2 separate regions of the Homo sapiens genome follow, and region 1 is linked to region 2. Evidence: fine-mapped expression QTL. A gene starts in region 2. The other region holds a variant in brackets. All regions are shown on one strand. Distances are from middle to middle. Region 1 holds the start of LOC105371796 (a long non-coding RNA gene). Region 2 holds the start of DCAKD (dephospho-CoA kinase domain containing).

Region 1 (8,330 bases), 310 kb after region 2:
TTTGGAAGGCCAAGATGGGTGGATCACTTGAGGTCGGTAGTTCGAGACCAGCCTGGCCAACCCTGGCGAAACCCTGTCTCTACTAAAAATACAAAAATTAGCTGGTCGTGGTGGCAGGTGCCTGCAATCCCAGCTACTTGGGAGGCTGAGGCAGGAGAATCGCTTAAACTGGGGAGGCGGATATTGCAGTGAGTGCAGATTGTACCACTGGATTCCCGCCTGGGCAACAGTGCGAGACTCCGTCTCAAAAAAAAAAAAAAATCACATCCAAGCTCCTGGCCTGGCTTTCCTTTCCGCTCCCTTCCATTGACTGCCTCCCTTGGTGGTCTCTCCATCTCGTTTTCCCATGTTGCCCCACCCAGTTATAGAGTCAGCTGGTCACATCTCTCAAAAGTGCCAAAACTTCCAACTCATGCTCTGAGGAAGGATTCTTAAGAAATAAGAATGTCCAAACTGGATGTCCAAAACTCCACCCATGCTGGGTCCTGTCCCTGTCTTGTTGGGAAGAATGTGGGTGGAGAAGGAAGGAAGGAGAGCAAGAGAGCTTCCCCCTTGTGAAGCAAGAGGACCATTGGGGGAGGAGCAGTGGCAGTGCCAAAGGGGGCTTTCATCCCTCCGTACCCCTCACAGTGCCCCAGAAGCCCCTTCAAAGAAAGATGTACTCACCATGCTTCAAGACAATGCTAGTTGCTACAACAAATAAACCCCCAAATATATTTTGTTTATTTCCCACTTATTTACCAGTTCATTGCAGATGTTCTTGGTTTGCAGGTGACCTTCCCCCATGCAGTGATTTAGAGACCAGGCTTTTTCCATTTTGAGGCCCTACCACCGCCTGGTCTAACTATCATCTTCTACACTCATTTAATAGGAGGGGAAAGAGACCCCATGAAAGGCATAACCACTCCTCAAAAGCCTTGGCCTGGAAGTGACACACGTTACTTCTGCTCCCATTCCATTGGCAAGAACGTGGCATGGGGCCAAGGGGGCCTGGGAAATGTGGTCCCTGGCTCGGCAACTGCTTCCCAGTGACAGCAACACTGGAAAGGAGAGTTCAGATGTTGCTCTCCCTGCCACTGAGCTCTGTTGAGTTTTCACCAGTCAGGTGGCCTTACTTTTAAACTGTGCAGAGCTCTCTGGATGTGAAGAGTTATCTCCCACTCCATCACCAGCATGGTTTCTTACTGTCTCCTCCATTGCTGAGGTTGTTACAGGCTCTTTTCCAGCCCCTCCCTCCTCCCTCAGCCACCCGGGGTCCCCCTCCTTCTAGTCGCTTGCCTAAACCTGACCTCCTCCAAGACACTTTTCAAGGATCTCAGCATCTTCCATTCTCTGGGCACCCTGTTTGCCATAAACACAAGTAGGAGCACTGTTTGGAGAACATATGTGCCCCTCTCTCATCTGCTTGCTAATGTTTGGTATTCTTCAACAGAGCACCAAGGTTTTCTCCCCACGATCAACACCAAGACTTCAGATGCGTGTACCCAACACTAAGACTTCAGATACATGCACCCTGGGGGAGAGGGCAGATCTTCTCGCACACAGGGGAGTGGTTGACTGGGGGATCCTTATAAGTCCTTGCAGAGGGGAGGGAAGGAGAGCAAGGGGACCCTGGGCAGGGGCAGACAAGGGAGCCAGCTATTGAAAGGGAGGCTTTGGCTATATTTTTCAATTAGCTCTATTTTTCAGTCATATGTTGAGCATCTTCAACTTTTTCTAAACAGACTAATCAAATAGTGTCCACTTATTAAATGCTGATATGGTTTGGCTGTGTCCCCAACCAAATCTCATTTTGATTTGTAGCTTCCATAATTCCCACGTGTTTTGGGAGGGACCCGGTGGGAGATCATTGAATCACGGGGGCGGTTTCTCCCATACTGTTCAAATGACAGTGAATAAGTCTCATGAGAGCTGATGGTTGTACAAGGGGAAACCCCTTTCACTTGCTTCCCTCATTCTCTTTTTGCCTGCCACCATGTAAGACATGCCTTTTGCCTTCCATCATGATTGTGAGGCCTCCCCAGCCACGTAGAATTGTGAGTCCATTAAACCTCTTTTTCTTTATAAATTACCCAGTCTTGGATATGTCTTTATTAGCAGCGTGAAAGCAGACTAATACAAATGCCAACCTTGTGCTGGGCACCACTAGCTCTTTTTATAAGCATGGTCTGATTTATCTTCCCAACAACCTCGTGAGGTAGGAACTCTTATTTTATCCCCGTTTGGCACAGGAGAAAAGCAAGACTCAGAGACATTTAGTAATTTTCCCAAGGTCACATAGCTTCTAGTCATTCTAGAAGAGCTTGGGTTTGAACCTAGATATCCAGCCTCAAAGTCCTCCAGTCCTCTGTGCCTGTGTCTCCTCTTCCCCTGGGATACCCAGCATGGCAGAGGCACTCAATGCTCATTGACTACTCATGTCCTCCTCCACACTTCCCAGCCTTCCGTGCAGTCAGGGTGGGGTCATGAGGCAAACTCTGACCAACAGGCTGTGAATGGAAGTGACAGGTGTCATTTCTGGACCGAAACACTGAAGTGCTGCTGTCCAACCCTCCTGTTCTCTCTTGGCCTTTAGTGGCAACCACAGATGCCATGGTTTGAAATGGTAGAGCCACTAGAAGGAAGTAGCCTGTACAAGGGACAGCTAACCTGGACAGTTACCCAACCTGCAGCAGTTTTGTGTGAACGAGAAAAATACACCTTTGTTGCATCAAGAAGCCGCTAAGATTTGGAGGTCAATGTTTACCTCAGCACACTATAGCCTCTCCTGACCAATACACCAGAACAGGACACTAGATAGAGTAGGGTTCCACTCAGTTGGTTACTAACAAGGTGGTGCTCTCAGACATTTTGTTTTATAAACTTTACAGTGCTCCAGAGTAAGGATGGAACTGAAGGACTTTCTAAAACACAAGTTCCCAGCTGGGCGCAGTGGCTCACGTCTGTAATCCCAGCACTTTGGGAGGCCAAGGTGGGCGGATCACTTGAGGTCAGGAGTTCGAGACCAGCCTGGCCAATATGGTGAAACCCCATCTCTACTAAAAATATAAAAATTAGCTGGGCGTGGTGGCGGGCGCTATAATCCCAGCTACTCAGGAGGCTGAGGCAGGAGAATCACTTGAACCTGGGAGGTGGAGGTTTTAGTGAGCCAAGATTGCACCACTGCATTCCAGCCTGGGCGACAAAGTGAGACTCAGTCCAGTCTCAAAACAAAACAAAACACCAAAACACAACAACAAAAACACCACAAGCTCCCAGAGGCAGGTGGGAGAACACCAAGGGTCTTCATCAGCCCCCTGGGGAGCAGGAGCCCCTTGCCCAGCCTCCCATCCCAGGTTCCCCTCTGCCCTGCATCAAACTTCTCCCTGTTGCTGGTTTCTAGAGCTGTTCCCTCTCTGGCACAGCCCCTCTGTCTCCACCCCGCAGCAGCCGGCTTCCAGAAGCTAAAGCTCAGACACCACTGGCCCCTCCCCAGATGCAACCAAGTACCTGGAAGTCTCCCCACGCCTCACATTGTCTTTGCTTCACATTGTCTTTCAGATGAGTCCCTGGGGATGCGGAGCTCTTGCGATTCTGCCATCTGATCCTGCAATACAGGAAATCACCACTTTCTGGCCTCTGCTGACTGGAGAGCCAGTGTGGCAGGCAGGAAGCTCCAGTCTGGGCTGTCCACTGCCAGGTCAGGTCTGGGGAGAAGGTGGAGAGTCCCAGGCCCGAGATGGGCTCCTGGTTGGGGTGGGGAGGGCCAGGACAGCCAGCGTGTTCACTCCTCCCACAGACGGTTCTACAAACCCTCGTGGAAACTTTCTGTGCGGCTGGCCCTGTGCTTGGTGCTGTGG[G/A]AGCACAAAGGCAAGAGATCATGGCACCTGACTTCCAGGAGCCTCCATCCTGCAGGTCCAAGTAGGACATTAGCTGCAGAGAAACAGAGCAAAGGAATAAATAGCAGTCAGGGATTTTTCACTTGCAAGTGACGTGAACCCAGGGCCAGAGTAAGATCTATAGAGAGGCTGGGCGCGGTGGCTCACGTCTGTAATCCCAGCACTTTGAGAGGCTGAGGTGGGCGGATCACTTGAGGTCAGGAGTTTGAGACCAGCCTGGCCAACATGGTGAAACCCTGTCTCTATTAAAAATACAAAAATTAGCTGGGTGTGGTGGCATGCGCCTGTAATCCCAGCTACCCAGGACGCTGAGGCAGGAAAATCACCTGAACCTGGGAGGCGGAGGTTGCAGTGAGATCACACCACTGTACTCCAGCCTGGGCGACAGAGGGTGACTCTGTCTCAAAAAACAACAACAAAACAAAAAAAAAAAAAAAAAGGGAAAGAAAGAAAGAAAGAAAGAATGAACCAGCATGGCACATGTATACATATGTAACTAACCTGCACATTGTGCACATGTACCCTAAAACTTAAAGTATAATAATAATAAATAAATTAAAAAAAGAAAGAAAGAAAGAAGAAAGAAAGAGAGAGAAAGAAAGGAAGAAAGAAAGAAGGAAAGAAAGAAAGAAAGGAAGAAAGAAAGAAAGAAAGGAAGGAAGGAAGGAAGGAAGGAAGAAAGAAAGAAAGAAAGAAAGAAAGAAAGAAAGAAAGAAAGAAAGAAAGAAAGAAAGAGGAAAAAAGCCCTGATATAGCTCTGGCTGTGACTGAGTCACAGCCCCATACCTGAACTGATCCCATAGCAAGCACAGGGTTCAGAAGTGGAGGGGGTAGGAGAAAAGATGGGCTACTCCGACTTCGAGGCCTGGGCCTTATGAGCCTCTCTGGATCCTGGGAGTGGAATCAGCTTCTTCTGGACCACATGTCTGAAGGTGGGCGACAGATATTTCTCATGGAATATTGGAGTGTTTTGATCAGAAGGAGGAAGGATGCTGGGTAGGGTCACAACCAAGGTCTGCTGCTGGTGGGAGAATGGAATACGCCCTCAGAGAAGTATGAACCAAGGGCTGTGGGAATTCAGAAGAGGGAGATGTCATGTCCAGCTGAGGGGGTCAAGGAAGGCTTCATGGAGGAGGAGGCATCTGGGCTGGGCCTTGAAGGATGACCAGAGTTTGGGCATTGGATCTCTTAGGATGGGAGGAAAGGGCATTGTGGGCATAGGGAACAATGTGAGCAGAAACCTGGATGTAAGCCAGAGAGAAGCAGGGGCTGAAGCCAGATGAAGGAAAGGCCTCGAATGCCAAGCTAAGGGGCATGGATTGAATTTGTGGAGCCAAGGATGGGATCATCAGATCTGAGCCCCTGGAAACGCATACTACCCACTCAGGGGCCCGGCTCCCCACCCCCACCCCTGGCCTGCTCTGGGTGCCCACAGATCCCTTTTCCTTTCGTTGAGCTCAGACAAGTCTGGAGTTTTCCAATAGAAATGCTTACTCAGAAATGGAAGAAAAGTGAAAACAGAAAGTGTGATTACAGACCTTAGCTTTCTCCTGCCAAAGTAGACAAGCTTGGTACCTGTGACAGTCCCTCTTCTCTGGGCTGAACCTGCCCTCTCCCCTCTGCCTGCTGAGCCCCAGGAGAGGCGGGGGCTGTGCTGGGGGTAGACAGCGTGCTCTCCCTGTGGGACCCTCAGGCTCTCCAGGGTCCATTCCTGCCCTGCCCTGAATAGTACTTTCTCTGCAGCTGCCCTGGCTCAGGGCAAGGGGGGGCACCCCCAATTCTCACCCCCTAAATTCCTCCCCGACCCTGGAGCCACACTGCTCTTATTATGTCACCAGGAGGTTTTTCCAAGACGTCTGCTAAGAATCAGGTGAAAATCAGCTGAAGGCTGAGTCTGCGCCAGTTCTCAGCCCCTGAAGGGTGGGTAGGGCCATGTCCCAGTCAAAGGTGTGGACTGTGGATTCCACCTCTGTTGCTAAGATGGGACAGAGAAGTCCCATAGCCTCCCGGAGCCTCAGTTTTCTCTTCTGCAATAGAGAACTAATAAGCTCCAGCTCGTAGGATTTGTTGGAGGATTAAACAGTATCCCAGAAGTCACTTACAGGCATGGGACATGTCTGCAGTACGTGGTGACAATGAGGATGATGAAGAAGAAGATAATGGAGATGAAGGAACCACCAGGAGGGGAGACATGGACCAGCAGGGTCTTTTACTTTGGATTGCTCTGAGGTGACACCAGGTGTGTGTGAGTCCACATTGACAGGCTGGGCAGATGGATGGGCGGGGGGTCAGGACGCAGCATGGGGGCTGAGGGCAGCACCATCCCGAACCACACTCCTGGGCTCTGAGCTCGCCTCACGCTGCTGGACTCAGGAGAACCTCAGCATGAACACTCATCATGTCCTCTAGCCTGGAGCTTCCCAAATTAAGGAAGGGGTGGCCTCTGGGTCATTCCAGAAAGCCCTGTGATTCAGACCGTGCCGATGTTACCCTGGGTGGACTCCCTCAGCCTCAGCCTCCCTCATCAGTTAGGGGATCCCAATCAGACTTTTTGGAGGTCAGAGGCTGCCAGGAAAGAGGGCTTTTAACAAGGTTTCTACAAACCTTGAGATTGCTAGAAAGGGCCTGATGGACGGGGTGGGGCAGGCGGGGAGAGGGGGGAGGGGGAGGAAGGCTCAGGTCAGGGGTCACCAGGCCTTAATGATCCCTCTCAGCAAACTAACTTGAGGATGTATTCCAATTGTATTTGCTTATTTATGTCAGGAACATAAACTATTGCATTAATATATTATGCCTATTATAAAAATACGTATAAAACGAAAATTTTAAGAGATATCAATAGGAAACAAGTTAAACAAATGACGTCCCATGCATACAATCAACTATGACTGACCTATTTTTTAAAATGATGTCTTATAACTCGATAATAAGAAGACAAACAACTAAATGTAAAGATGGACAAAACAACCCAGGCGTGGTGGCTCATGTCTGTAATCCCAGCACTTTGGGAGGCCGAGACAAGTGGATTGCTTGAGGCTAGGAGTTTGAGACCAGCCTGGGCAACATGGTGAAACCCCATCTCTACTAAAATTACAAAAACTAGCCAGGTGTGCTGGCAGGCGCCTGTAATCCCAGCTACTTAGGAGGCTGATGCAGGAGAATCGCTTGAACCCAGGTGGCAGAGGTTGTGGTGAGTCAAGGTTGTGCCACTACCCTCCAGCCTGGGCAACAGAGCAAGACTCCCCCACCGCCACCACAAAACTCCCGCTGCAAAAAAAAAAAAAAGATGAAAGACTCTAATAGACATTTTTTTCAAAGAAAATATATGGGCTGGCATGGCTCAGGATATTGTGACACATGCCTGTAATCCCAGCACTTCAGGAGCCGAGGCAGGAGGATTGCTTGAGGCCAGGAGTTTGAGACCAGCCTGGTCAACATAGCAAAACCCCATCTCTACAAAAAAAAAAAAAAATTAGCCGATATAGTGGTGTGTATCTATAGTCCCAGCTACTCAGGAGGCTGAGGCAGGAGGATCTTTTGGGCTCAGAAGCTCAAGGCTGCAGTGAGCTATGATTGTGCCACTGCACTCCAGCCTGGGTGACAGAGGAAAACCCTCTCTCTCCTAACAATAATAAAAAAGAATGGTTAATAAGCACACAAAAATGTTCAATTTCAATTTGTTATTTGAAAAATGCAAATTAAAACCACAATGAGATACCATTTCAAACCCACCAGGATGGCTATAATCAAAAAGACAGATAATAATAACAAGTGTGGTGGAGAATGTAGAGAAAGTGGAAGCCTCATACATTGCTGTTGGGAATGTAACATGATGCAGCCACTTTGGAAAACAGCTTGGCAGTTGCTTAAAAAGTTAAACAGAAACTACCCAAGAGAAGTAAAAATGTGGCCACACAAAGACCTGAATGCTCATAGCAGCATTGTACATTTTAAAAACCCTGTAAATCATCCAAATATGCAAAAGCTGGTAACTGGATAAACAAAATGTGAAATATCCATTCAGTGTAATACTACTCAGCAATAAAAAGGAACAAACTGGCCGAGCGCAGTGGCTCACATTCGTAATCTCAGCACTTCGGGAGGTCGAGGCAGGTGAATCACCTGAGGCCAGGAGTTTGAGACTAGCCTGGCCAACATGGTGAAACACCATCTCTACTAAAAATACAAAAATTAGCCGGGAGTGGTGGCGCACGCCTGTCGTCCCAACTACTCAGGAGGCTGAGGCACAAGAATCGATTGAACCTGGGAGGTGGAGGTTACAGTGAGCCGAGATCGCACCACTGCACTCCAGCCTTGGCGACAGAGTGAGACTCGGTATCAAAAAAACAAAAAACAAAAAGCAAAAAAGGAACAAACTTCTTAAATGAGCTACGACATAGATGAACTTCAAAAATATTATGCTCAGTAAAAGAAGCTAGACACAAAAGACCA
Region 2 (8,330 bases):
GATCCTGCCACTTCAGCCTCCCAAGTAGCTGGGACTACAGGCATGCACCAACACGCCCGGCTAATTTTTAAAAATTTTTTGTAGAGATGAGGTTTTGCTGGGTTGCCCTGGCTAGTCTCTTTTTTTTTTTTTTTTTTTGAGATGGAGTCTCACCCTGTTGCCCAGGCTGGAATGCAGTGGCGCGATCTTGGCTCACTGCAACCTCCGGCTCCCGGTTCAAATGATTCTCCTGCCTCAGCCTCCCCAGTAGCTGGGATTACAGGCACACGCCACCACACCCAGCTAATTTTTGTATCTTTAGTACAGACGGGGTTTCGGCATGTTGGTCAGGCTGGTCTTGAACTTGTGACCTTGTGATCCGCCCACCTTGGCCTCCCAAAGTGCTGGGTTTACAGGCGTGAGCCACCGCGTCTGGCCCCTGGCTAGTCTCAAACACCTGAGCTCAAGTAATCTGCCTGCTTTGGCCTCCCAAAATGTTGAGACTACAAGCATAAGCCACCACACCCGGCCCACTTAGCTTATTAAGAGAAATACTCAAATAAAACTTTGTTAACATTGTTTTTATCAATTGTGTATTTTATAATTGTGACAACTCAATCCAAAAGAAACATTTAATACTCATGATAACACAATTTTAAAAAAGTTTTAATTTTGTATGTATTTTTGTTGCAGAGAAATATGATAAACCAAAGGCTTTCAGGCATAAAATGTATTATTACATGGTCAGGCACAGTATCTCATGCATATAATCCCAGCACTTTGGGAAGTCAAGGCAGGAGGATCACTTGAGGCCAGGAGTTCAAGACCAGCCTGGGCAACATAGTGAGACTCTGTCTCTACAAAAAAATGGAAAAAAAAAAAAATTAGCTGGAATCCCAGCACTCTGGGAGGCAGATCACTTGAGGCCAGGAGTTTGAGACCAGCCTGCCTGGCCAATATGGCAAAAGCCCATCTCTACTAATAATACAAAAATTAGGCCAGGCATGTTGGCTCATGCCTGTAATCCCAGCACTTTGGGAGGCCGAGGGCGGATCACGAGGTCAGGAGTTTGAGACCTGCCTGGCCAATATGGTGAAACCCCGTCTCTACTAAAAATACAAAAATAGCCAGGCATGGTGGTACATGCCCATAGTCCCAGCTACTCAGGAGGCTGAGGCAGAAGAATCGCTTGAAACCGGGAGGCAGACGTTGCAGTAAGCCGAGATCGTGCCACTGCACTCCAGCCTGGGTGACAGAGCGAGACTCCATCTCAAAGAAAAACAAAACAAAAATTAGCCAGGCGTGGTGGCATGCACCTGTAATCCCAGCTACTCAGGAGGCTGAGGCTTGAGAAGCATTTGAACCTAGGAGGTAGAGGCTGCAGTGAGCCAAGACTGCGCCACTGCACTCCAGCCTGGGTGACAGAGTGAGACAGACTCTGTCTCAAAAAGAAAGAAAGAACCATAAAAATAGCCAACCAGCAGCACAAGGGCTGTTCTGCCTATGGTGTAGCCATTCTTTATTCCATTATTTTCCTAATAATCTTGCTTTCATTTGGAAAAAAAAAATTGGCTGAGCATGGTGGCGAAAGCCTGCAGTCCCAGCTACTGGGGAAGCTAAGGTGGGAGTATTGCTTGAGCCCAAGAGGTCAAGGCTGCAGTGAGCTGTGATCCCGCCACTGCACTACAGCCTGGGTGACAGAGACCCTGTCTCAAAAAAACAAAAACTATTACATTAGAAAAAACTTCTGTGAGGAAACAAAGTGGAAATATGAGTTCAAGAAGGAAAAAGGGCCAAGCATGGTGGCTTACACCTCTAATCCCAGCACTTTTGGAGGCTGAGATGCAAGGATCACTTGAGACCAGGAGTCAGCCGGGGCAACATAGCAAGACCTCGTCTCTACTAAAAATAAAAAGAAAAATCAGCCATATGTGGTGACAGACACCCGTACTCTTAGTTACTTTGGTGGCTAAGGTGGGAGGATTGAGCTCAGCAGGTCAAGGGTGCAGTAACCAGTGACTGCCACTGCACTCCAGCTTGAGCAACAGAGCAAGATCCCATCTCGGAAAAAATAAAGGAAAAAAAGAACGATTTGAAATTTCGATGGTTAAATAAAAAGTGGTTCTTTTTTTTTTTTTCAAAAGATGAGGGAAATCAAATCAAATGGTGTATATTTAGACTTCACTGCAGGTTTAAATGAGGATTTTAACAGCTTTATTTTAAAATATCAACATTCACAATTAACCAGAACTTTTATCCTCTGTAATCTTCAAAATAAAAATGTGAAAGTTTCAATCTAAAGCTATCAATCTAAAACTGTGCCAGCAGGTAATTTTCTTTTTCTTTTCCTTTTTTTTTTTTTTTTTTTTTTTGAAACAGAGTCTTGCTCTTGTCACCCAGGCTGGAGTGCAGTGGCACGATCTCAGCTCACTGCAACCTCTGCTTCCTGAGTTCAAGTGATTCTCCTACCTCGACCTCCTGAGTAGCTGGGATTGCAGGCACCCGCCACCACACCCAGCTAATTTTTTTGTATTTTTAGTAGAGATGGAGTTTCACCATGTTGGCCAGGCTGGTCTCAAACTCCTGACCTCAGGTGATCTGCCTGCCTCAGCCTCCCAAAATACTGGGATTACCAGGCGTGAGCCACCGCGCTCGGCCTCCCAGCAGGTAATTTTTTCTTTCTTTCTTTCTTTTGAGAAGGAGTCTCACTCTCTTGCCCAGGCTGGAGTGCAGTGGCACGATCTCGGCTCACTGCAACCTCAGCCTCCCGGGTTCAAGCGATTTTTCTGCCTCAGCCTCCCGAGTAGCTGGGACTACAGGCATGCACCACCATGTCCGGCTAATTTTTTTGCATTTTTAGTTGACACGGGGGTTTCACCATGTTGACCAGGCTGGTCTCGAACTCCTAACCTCGGGTGATCCACCCTCCTCAACCTACCAAAGCGCTGGGATTACAGGCGTGAGCCACCGTGCCCGGCCCAGAGGGTAATTTTCAAAACAAAGCTAAGTTCGTGGCTTGCCTGCCTTCAGCTATCAGCCCTCTTCTTCTCTCCTTAAGGTACAGGCACCAAGAGGGGCTCGGAGACCATTTAAACGTTATTTACCAAGGGGACAGATTCAGACCTTGGTGAAGACAGACAGAGGAGGATTTGGTGGGAATTTAGGGCCCTGCTGAGACAAAAACCACCCGAACCCGTCTGTCCACTTTCTATCCATCTACCAGATCTCTAGCATTTCACCCCTTTCCCCAGGCCTATGCCAGCACTGTGCCACACCAACTCAATCTTGATTTATTCAGGTAAAATGAGCACTCTCCCTCCTGCAAAAACAAACACGTTTAAGACATAAAACATATTCAAAGGCTTCCATTTCCTCACCGTTAGAATTGAGACTTAATGTCAAAGTTCACTTGGGTAGGTTGAATCATTTTCCCACAACTAAGGGAGAGTGAAAAATCTTTGAAAACTCTGTAAGCAAACACCTGAAATGCCAACGCCTCCTTTGCGGAGCTGGGGAAGGAAGAGACGGGTGGCCGGATGGCCTCCCTCACTAGTTGGTGGGCGTGAGATCCACGCCGCCCCAGTCCCGGGGGCCTTCACTAAAACCTTAACTGGCCTCCCAGGGGAGAGGGAAGCGGAGGAGAGGGGTCTGAAAATCGGAGATGATCACTCAGCTCAACAGTAAAGCACTTTATACCCACCCTATGGGACAGATACTGTAGCTTTATTCCCATTTTTCAGATGAGCAAACTTGGGATCGGAAAGATACCCCAAGGTCACACAACTGAAGTGGCAGAAGCTAGATTCAAGAATCAATCGGCCCGCAAAGTTCTAAAGGGCAGTGGCTTTGGTCTGATCCTGAGTTTGAATCCACAATCTCCAGCCCTTTCTAGCTGTAAACCTTCCTGCGCGTCCTCAGCCGTAAAACAGAGGAAATAACACGTTGCTTGGTAGGGTTGCTGTCAAGACAATGGGCCGTGGATATAAAAGCACTTGCCTTAGTGCTGGCCGCATACGACGCGCTCAATACATCGTAACTCAGGCTTTCAAAAGAGGCCCGTACGCCCCACTAGGCCGCGAAATTGGGTCGCCCGGGGCGGTGGCAGCCCCGCGTAGCAGCCGCGGCCAGGGCCCGCCCCCTCCCCGGCGCCCGGCTGGCTCTCACCGGCCCGCGTGGCGCGCTACGTACCCAGCGCCTCCGCCGTGGCCCAGGCCTCCGCCTCTAGCCCAATCTCCGCAGCGCTTACAGGCCGGCTCAGCGGGCGAGGCGGGACCTCGGGAGCGCGCGCCTGCAGACCGGACGTCCGGCCAGCAGGCGGGGCCGGGAGAGGTTGGACGGGCGGGGCCGGGAGAGGTTGGGTGGGCGGGCGGGGCCGGGAGAGGTTGGGCGGGCGGGCGGGCGGGGCCGGGAGAGGTTGGGCGGGCGGGCGGGCGGGGCCGGGAGAGGTTGGGCGGGCGGGCGGGCGGGGCCGGGAGAGGTTGGGCGGGCGGGCGGGCGGGGCCGGGAGAGGTTGGGCGGGCGGGCGGACGCGGGAGAGGTTGGGCGGGCGGGCGGACGCGGGAGAGGTTGGGCGGGCGGGCGGACGCGGGAGAGGTTGGGCGGGCGGGCGGACGCGGGAGAGGTTGGGCGGGCGGGCGGACGCGGGAGAGGTTGGGCGGGCGGGCGGACGCGGGAGAGGTTGGGCGGGCGGGCGGACGCGGGAGAGGTTGGGCGGGAGAGGTTGGGCGGGAGGGCGGCCGGACGGACGCGGGAGAGGCCGGCGGGGAGAGCTCGGCCCCGGAGCACGGCACAGAGGTCCCCCGCAACCCCCGACCCGGAGCCATAAATTTTCCTTTCCCCGGAGCCGGGAAGGAGAGGGAGAGAGAGGAGAGGGGCAAAACTGCAGGGTCCTAACTTCGGATATAAAGCTCGGCCACTCGCTACTTGTGCAGCCTTGGCAGAGGTGATCATGAGCACTTTCCACCTGCCAGGTCCTAAGAGCACTTTGTGGGATTATCTCAGCCCGCACAGTCCGCAGGGTGGATACTATCATCATCCCCATTTTACACAACAGGAAACTATGTTTAGCGGTTAATCCATTTGCCCTCTCATACAAAGTCATGTGATTGCAGAGCCCGCATCCTGTCCATACAAGCCTAGCAAGCCACTCAGCCTCTCATCCTGTCTCCTCTCAAAGTGGGGATAATCGCAGCCGTGCAGCGTTGTTGAAAGAATACATAAAAGCCGGGCACGGTGGCTCACACCTGTAATCTCAGCACTTTGGGAGGATCACTTGAGCCCAGGAGTTCGAGACCAGCCTAAACAAGAGTGAGACTAACCCCCGATCTCTACAAAAAAAAAAAACAAAAAACAAACTAGCCAGGCATGGTGACAGTGTGGTCTCATTTACTCGGGAGGCTGAGGCAGGAGGATGGCTTGAGCCCAGGAGGTCAAGGCTGCAGAGAGCCATGATGGTACCACTGCACTCCAGCCTGGGCAACAAAACGAGACCTTGCCTCAAAAAAAATAAAGCATCTAGGCCGGGCGCTGTGGCTCACGCCTGTAATCCCAGCACTTTGGGAGGCCAAGGCGGGTGGATCACCTGAGGTCAGGAGTTTGAGACCAGCCTGGCCAACATGGCAAAATCCCGTCTCTACTAAAAATACAAAATTAGCCGGGCGTGGTGGTGAATGCCTGTAATCCCAGCTACACGGGAGGCTGAGGCAGGAGGATTGCTTGAACCCGGGAGGTGGAGGTTGCAGTGAGCCCAAGATCCGGTCACTGCACTCCAGCCTGGGAGACTACAGCAAGACTCTGTCTCCAGTTAAAAAAAAAAAAAAAAAAAAAAAAAAACTAGTTATCTAGTTATGCCTCACATATAGCAGGAAGTTGTTTTTGTTTTTTTTTTGTTTGGTTTGTTTGTTTGTTTGTTGAGACAGAGTTTCGCTCTATTGCCCAGGCTGGGGTGCAGTGGCAGGATCTTGGCTCACTGCAGCCTCTGCCTCCCAGGTTCAAGCGATTCTCCTGCCACAGCTTCCCGAGTAGCTGGGACTAGAGGTGTGCGCCACCACATCCAGCTAATTTGTTTTGCTTTTGAGATGGAGTTTTGCTCTTGTTGCCCAGGCTGGAGTGCAGTGGCATGATCTCGGCTCACTGCAACCTCTACCTCCCGGGTTCAAGCGATTCTCCTGCCTCAGCCTCCCAAGTAGCTAGGATTACAGGCATGTACCACCACACTCGGCTAATTTTGTATTTTTAGTAGAGATGGGGTTTCACCACGTTGGCCGGGCTGGTCTGGAAATCCTGACCTAGGTGATCCACCCACCTCGGCCTCCCAAAGTGCTAGGATTACAGGCGTCAGCCACCATGCCCAGCACATCTGGCTAATTTTTGTATTTCTAGTAGAGATGGGGTTTGGCATGTTAGCCAGGCTGGTCTCAAACTCCTGACCTCAGGTGATCCACCCACCTCGGCCTCCCAAAGTGCTGGGATTATAGGCATGAGCCACGGTGCCTCACCAGCAGGAAGTTTTTAATTAACACCTACCCTGTCTCCCTTCCCTTTCCTTAAACTGTATCTCTATTCTCTACTTCCTTTAAGGTAGGAATCTTGCCTATCTACTACTACAATACCCAGTGCCCTGCACAGTAGGGATTCAGTATATTGAGGAATTAAGTAATTTAACATCTTTCTCAGATCACCTGAGTCCCTGAAAGCTTTCTTCCTGACTTCAACAGTCAAGGAGACCTACTGCCATCACCCAATAAAAAGGATTCCATCTTGTGTCCAAAAGGGCCATTTGGTACAAACACCCTGCCAGTATTTGAATCTCTTCCACATTATCTCTGCCATGTATACATGTACATGTCCCATGTTGGGGAACTCACTGCCACTCAAGACAGTTTTATTTATTTTTTTTTTTGAGACAGAGTCTGGCTCTGTTGCCTAGGCTGGAGTACAATGGCGTGATCTCAGCTCACTGCAACCTCCGCCTCCCGGGTTCAAGTGATTCTCCTGCCTCAGCTTCCCTAGTAGCTGGGATTACAGGTGCCTGCCACCATGCCAGGCTAATTTTTACATTTTTAGTAGAGATGGGGTTTCACCATGCTGGCCATGCTGGTCTCGAACTCCCAACCTCAGGCGATCTGCCTGCCTCAGCCTCCCAAAGTGCTGGGATTACAGGTGTGAGCCACCACACCTGGCTGACAGTTGTTATTTTTTCAAGTCCAGTCTTGGCAGTTAGAAAGTTCTTTCTTAGGCAGTATCTCTCCTAGTTTTAAACCGTGGGGCCATACAGAACAAATCTAATTCTATTTTATAGAGCCAGATTTAATGGCTCAATTCCCTTCCTTGATCAAACAATGTATAGCTAACCTAATCCTGTGGTTCTCACCCTTTTCCCTACTCCTGACACATCCAAGGGATACCCAGACTCCCACCAGTAATCATGGCTGGCCAAGACAGGGATAGGAACAGGCCTGGCCTGTCCCCCCAAATTATCTGGATCTTCCTGGGACACAGTGTTAGGAAACCGTCCAGATGACCCTACTTTTCTCAGATACTGCCTTACAGTATTATAACTATTCATGTACAAGTGAGAGCCTTGTCTTCCAAGGAGGTATCCTTGTGGTCCGATTTGCCAAAAGCAGCTGCACCTCTGCCCCAGGAAGATCCCATAGGAAAGGGTGAAGGGCTGCTACAGGGCCTTCAACCCAGGCACCTCCTCCATAATGAAACTTGGGCTTTGGAGTTTCCATGTGATGCCATCAAGGGCTTTTTCAGCTCAAATATATGTCTTTCATGATTCAGGATGGCAATAAGAAACTTTGAGCTGGCTGTAGCTACTTACACAATCTCATTTTATCCTGAGAGTGGCCTGCATCTCAGTCACCTCTGTGTCCTTAGCATTTAGCATGATGCCTGGAATACAGTTCTGCTTCTCATTTTGTTTGATGAACAACCCTGAGTCCATTAGAGATGACTCCTTTGGCTCCTGGTTTTAAATTTATTTTCTGTACGTTTATTTATTTATTTATTTATTTATTTATTTTTGAGACAGGGTCTCACTCTGTTACCCAGGTTAGTGCAGTGGCACGATCTTGGCTCACTGTGACCTCTGCCTCCCAGGCTCAAGTGATCCTCCCATCTCAGCCTCCCACTGAATAGCTGGAACCACAGGCACACACTCCTCACTTTCTAAGCTCCAGTCCTAAGTCATATCATTCTCATTGCCATACCTCAAAAGCACCCAAGTCTCAGGCACCTGGACTTTCTACCTAGAAGGTCCACCCCAGTTTGTTTACTGTCCTGATGAACATTCAGCTAAGCCACCATGTCCCCCCAGGATCTCCTGCCTCTGGACAGCCTGTGCT

What was found. PIP is the estimated chance that this variant, and not a neighbour inherited with it, causes the effect.
Region 1: its variant is fine-mapped to the expression of DCAKD in adrenal gland (GTEx, PIP 0.98).

What each region holds. Positions count from the first base shown.
Region 1 is chr17:45,361,195-45,369,524 of GRCh38, forward strand. It overlaps LOC105371796 (a long non-coding RNA gene), which reads right to left and starts at 5,328. Exons shown (of 3, transcript XR_934786.3): 1 at 4,665-5,328; 2 at 3,490-3,586; 3 at 2,055-2,489. The variant G/A (reference allele first, on the strand shown) is at 3,840.
Region 2 is chr17:45,047,386-45,055,715 of GRCh38, forward strand. DCAKD (dephospho-CoA kinase domain containing) reads right to left here and starts at 4,247. Exons shown (of 5, transcript NM_001288655.2): 1 at 3,976-4,247. RefSeq lists enhancers at 1-271, 272-802 and a silencer at 3,888-4,387.